Linked DNA regions of Homo sapiens: region 1 is linked to region 2. Evidence: fine-mapped expression QTL. A gene starts in region 2. The other region holds a variant in brackets. All regions are shown on one strand. Distances are between the middles of the regions.

The links. PIP is the estimated chance that this variant, and not a neighbour inherited with it, causes the effect. A credible set is the group of variants that fine-mapping cannot tell apart.
Region 1: its variant is the best candidate, but not a certain one, in a credible set for the expression of LINC02702 in liver (GTEx, PIP 0.83).

The regions. Positions count from the first base shown.
Region 1 is chr11:116,664,452-116,667,273 of GRCh38, forward strand. No RefSeq gene overlaps it. Among named protein-coding and RNA genes, the nearest start is that of LINC02702, 26 kb to the left of the region's middle. The variant T/C (reference allele first, on the strand shown) is at 1,113.
Region 2 is chr11:116,637,613-116,640,434 of GRCh38, forward strand. It overlaps LINC02702 (long intergenic non-protein coding RNA 2702), which reads left to right and starts at 1,810. Exons shown (of 3, transcript NR_135069.1): 1 at 1,810-1,925. It overlaps LOC107984372 (a long non-coding RNA gene), which reads right to left and starts at 1,702. Exons shown (of 4, transcript XR_001748078.1): 1 at 720-1,702.

The DNA.
Region 1 (2,822 bases), 27 kb after region 2:
AAAATCTCAGCTGTTAACACATTCAACTCAGTTCAGCAGGGACCCAGGCTATTGGAGTTTTCATCTATTTCCATAGTAGAAAAGGAAACATGACAAATGGCTCTCTTAAAAATTCTGTCAAGGTGATATCACCAAATTGGTACAGTCAAAGCAACCTGGCTTTATTCTCTCCCACAAAAAATAAATAAATAAAATAAAATCCAGTACCAAGATTATCACCAGCATTATCCCAGAACTCAATTCTGAGGCTGAGACAATCCCCGGAACGACAGAGAAGTAAAACACTCTGAGTAGATGGTAAGAGAAACAGACTTCTCTATCCACAATGCCCCTCCTTCAATCTGCCAGGCACCACTCATGGATCATTTCTTCCAGATTCACATTTTCTACACTGGAAGAAGTGAAAGCAAGGCAGACAGCCAGCTTCCTCACTTTCTTGGGTTCCCTTGCACAAACACTGTTCCTACCTCAGCCCACCAGAAGCACCACAAGTGCCTACAGGGAGAGAAAACCCTGAGGGTACCTAGAGACAAACAGGGGAGGCAGGACTAGAAACCCCAGCCCACAAAACTCTGCTTTTTATCTCAGCCAAAGGAGATGCCAAATCAGAGTAGCTGTTTAACAGCATGCTATAGAAGGCATGCTCCACGGGCCTACTGGGCATACACTCCTTGCCAGCCTTCCCATTTAGCCAGAATATCCCCCATTCAGGACAAGCAGTGCTCTGAACATTTGGATGGGCAGTGCTCTGAACATTTGGATGGACAGTGCTCTGAACTTTCGTGAGAGCTGAGGCAAACCTGAGCTTAAAGCACTACCTAGTGCCAAGAAAGAGAGGCAACAATATAGGATTAAGGAGACTTGCAGACAGCTACAAAGAACCTTTAAGCAAATATACCCTAGAAAGACCAGAACATGTGAGACAGTGATGACTAGAATAAGTAACTAATCTTTCAATGAAAATCCATAAATGTACATACACAAGAAACAACAGCAAACAGGGAATCATGACCTCCCCAGATGGACAAAGCAAAGAGCCAGTGATCAACCCTAACAAGATGGTGATGTGTGAACTCTCAGATAAAGAATTCAAAATAGCAATTCTAAGGAAA[T/C]GCAGTGAATTCCAAGGTAATATAGAAAATCAATTCAGAAAATTAACAGAAATTTCACAAAAAGGTTGAAATAATTTTTTAAAAAATCAAACAAAAGTCCTGGAACTGAGAAATGCATTTACTGAACTGAAAAATACATTAGAGACTCTCAACAGCAGAAGGAAGATCAAGCAGAAGAATCAGTGAGCTCAAAGATAGTTTACTGGAAAATACACAGAAAAAAATGAAAAGGAATTTAAAATGCCTACAAGATATAGAAAATAATTGCCAAAAAGCAAATGTATGTCATTGGCATTCAGGAGGGAGTTGAGAAACAGCAAGAGTAAGAAGTTTGTTCAAAGAAACAATAAGAAAATTTTCCAAACCTAAAGAAAGATGTAAATATCCAGGTTCAGGGACCACCAAACAGATTCAACCCAAATAAGACTACCCCAAGGCATATAATAATCAGACTCTCAAAGGTCAAAGACAGAGGATCCTGAAAACAGCAAGAGAAAAGCAGCAAATAGTACATAAAAGAGCTCCAATTTGTCTAGCAACGTACTTCTCACCAGAAACAGAGGCCAGGAGGGAGGAGGACAACATGTTTAAAGTGTTTTTAAAGAAAACTGCTGAGTACATTGTACCTGGCAAAGCTTTCCTTCAAACATGAAGGAAAGAGAAAGTCTTTCCCAGACTAACAAAAGCTGAGGGAATTCATCACTAGACTCGTCATACAAGAAATGCTAAAGAGAGTTCTTCAATCTGAAAGAAAGGTTGCAAAAAGCAAGCATTTGAAGTTATAAAACTTACTAGTAAAAGTAAGTGAACAAATTCAGAATACTCTAACACTGTAACTGTGGTGTGTAATCCACTCATGTCTCTAGTATGAAGACTAAAAGACAAAACTATCAGAAATAATAACTACAGTAACCTGTTAAGAGATAGGCAAAATAAAAAGATGTAAACTGAGACAACAAAAGTCAAAATGTAGCAAGGGGTGGAGTTAAAGTGTAGAGTTTTGTTTAGTTTTTCCTTTGTTTCTTATTTTTGTGATCAAATTTAAGTTGCTGTCTGTTTAGAAGAACTTGTAAGCCTCATAGTAACCACAAAGCAAAAATCTATAAATACACTACAAATAAAAAGCAATCAATTAAAACATACTACCAGAGGAAGTCCATTCCAAGATGGCCAGATAGGAACAGCTCCAGTATGCAGCTCCCAGCGTGATTGACACAGAAGACAGGTGATTTCTGCATTTCCAATTCAGGTACCTGGTTCATCTCACTGGGACTTGTTGGACAGTAGGTACAGCCCATGGAGCATGAGCCAAAGCAGGGCAGGGCGTCACCTCACCCGGAAAGCACAAGGAGTCGGGAGATTTCCCTTTCCTAGCCAAGGGAAGCCATGACAGACTGTACCTGGAAAATTGGGACACTCCCGCCCTAACACTACACTTTTCCAACGGTCTTAGCAAATGGCACACCAGGAGATTATGCCCCGCGCCTGGCTCAGCGGGTCCCACGCCCACAGAGCCTTGCTCACTACTAGTGCAGCAGTCCAAGATCAAACTGCGAGGCAGCAGCCTGGCTGGGGAAGGGGCGTCCGCCATTGCTGAAGCTTGAGTAGGTAAACAAAGCGGCTGGGAAGCTCGAACTGGGTGGAGCCCACCACAGCTCAAGGAGGCCTGCCTGACTCTGTAGACTCCACCTCTGGGGGCAGGGCATAGCT
Region 2 (2,822 bases):
CTGTGTTCATTATTTTAACAGTTATTCGTGATCAAACGATTTGGTGTTAATGTGGATCTAATGTATAAATCCATACGGGTCCCACAGTCATTTAGCATTAATTAAACAAGGCCATTTTAAGGCTGGGATTCCACTGGGTTTATTGTGCTTAGCAGTGAATGGCGGAAACCACTCAACCACTCTGCTTTCTCTCTGCTCCTGTGTTGTCCCATTTACCTCTGGAGAGCAGGGGAAGAGCAAGCTTGAAGCTACCCTGGACAGAGGGTGGGGCACAGGGAGGACCCTGGCTAGGGTGTGGAAAGCTGACTGACAGGTGAGGAGCTCCATAGAGGCCCTGCTTGCAAAGAAGAAATAAGGGTTGCATTAGCATACCACGGGCCTGGATGCCCAGAGAACAGGATTTTAGTCCTGCTCTGCTGCTGATGACTAGCTGTGCAGCCTCGTGCAAGACACTTCCCTGCTCTGTCTTCATCGGTTAATTAAGAAGCCTGGACAAGCCAACCTCATTCCCTCTACCTGGAATGCATCTCCTTCCATTTCCCCATGGCTGCTCCTTTCCATCTTTCACATCTCAGCTCACGTCAGCTCCTCCAAGAAGAGATAACCACCCTCTGTTACCACCACTCCCCACCACCCAAGCACTCTGGAGCACATCGTCTCTCTTTTATTTTCTTTATGGGACTTACCACGGTCTTAATTATCTCTGCATTTGTACTCACTTGTTCCCTTGTGTGTTATCTCTGTCTCCTCCCCACTGTCATCTCCACAAGATCAAGAGCTTCATATGTCTTATTCATCTCTTTCACACCAATTCAGTACGTGGCACATGATGGGGGCTCAAAAAAAATAGTATGTCCACCAGCAGAATCATGAGGTGATCATTAAAACCCCTCCAGGATGGCACTCAATAGTCCTTGACATCTGCACCCAGAAAGTAAGGGCGGCATAGGGTGCGGGAAGAGCGGGGATCATCCAGGAGAACTTGTGGGAAAAGGACGATCAGAGCTGGATTCTGGGAGACAGAGGAACGCCAGCCTAGAGAAGGGGAAAACCTGTCTTGAGAAGGCAGGCAGGCAGGAGCCACAGCGGTGGAGAGCTTCAAGTCCCTGCAGCTGCTACACCTTCAGGCTCCCAGCCAAGACCATTTGGTGAACTATATTAATAATCACAATACAAGAATCCCTTGTGGACTGGAACAATTTCCCTTCCAAGGCAGTGACATGCCTATCACTTCACTTTATTCTTCTGCCATCCCCTTGATACAAAGGAGGAGAAAATATCTTCTGCTATGTATAAAATTAATAACAATTGTTCATTTGTATAGTACTTTCCCATTTCCCGAACACATTTTCTTATACAGGAATGATAGTATTTATTCCCATGTTGCAGATGAGGAGACTCAGAGAGGTGAAATGACTTGTCCGAGGTCAGTCATAGCGTATGTAGCCTGGAAAACTCAAGCCCCGAACTCCAAATTTTTCAACAACCTAGTGGTGTTTTTTCCAGATGAGGAAACTAACAGAGAGAGAGAGAGAGAGAGAGAGAAAGTGTATGGCTAGCTTATGAGAGCTCCCCACCCACACATCCAGGGGGTTAAATTATTTGTAGGGTCAGGATGAGGCATGCGGACAGTGGGAAGGGAACCATCTCCCTTCCCGACCTGAGCATGGAGATGGAGATCACCCTGAGTGAAAATGTTCATTTTTACAGTTCAGGGAGGGAGGGGCAGAGACTTCTTACATTACAGAACTCTAGAATTCTCAGCTGAAAATGATGTTGGAGATGTCTATGATCTCATTATACCCAGGTCCCAGTGCCCTCTTCTAAGCTCTTTATCATCATAATTTCTGATGTAAAGAGCATGATGCCATGGACAAAATGGGCCCTCAGTGACTATCCGATGCAGGGCCAGGCACTGAATGCAGGTGAGTGAGGAGGATCAGGTGCAATAAGTCAATAGCCATTGGCACTCAGCCCCTGTGTGGGGGATACAATAGGGAGTGGTGGGGACCGTGGCAAGTTAGGAGAGTGTAAACCCCGTGTGAGGGGAGAAAGATTGCAGCCAATTGTTGCCATGTGGACATGCAGGCCCAGTGTTACCAATTCTTACAGTTTTGAAAGAAGGTCAGAAGTGTGGCTCTCTATCAGAAATTCTAGAATATTAAATGTGGGTGCTTAAATTTAAAGCACTGTATAGGCCAAACAAAATATGTCTAAGAGCAAGTTTCCTTTAACAGCTTTGTTGAGGTATAGTTGATATACAAATAACTGTACATATTTAATGTGTACAGTTTGGTGAAGTTGGACATATGCAAACACCCATGATACCATCGCCACAATCAAGGTAATATGCATATCCAACACTTCCCAAAGTTTCTCATATTCCTTTGAGTGTGTGTGTGTGTGTGTGTGTGTGTGGTAAAAACACTTAACATGAGATCTTAAGGAATTCTGAAGTACACAATACCAGATTCTTAATTACAAGCACTATGTTGTACAGCAGATCTCTAGAACTTATTCACCCCGCAGAACCGAAACTCTATATGCATGGAATAACAATTCCCCATTTGCCTCTTCCCCTAGCCCCTGACAATTTGCTCCAAGCCCTGGGTGCTGTTGGTGCAGCCAACTCTTTTCTCTGCTGCTATTAGTTTGACAATTTCTGATATGTCATATACATGGAATCAATTTCTGATACATCATATACATGTGACTGGCTTATTTCACTTAGCATATTATTTCACTTAGCATATTTCACTTAGCATAATGTCCTCCATTGTGTTGTTGCAAATGACAGGATTTCCCTCTTTTTCAAGGCTAAA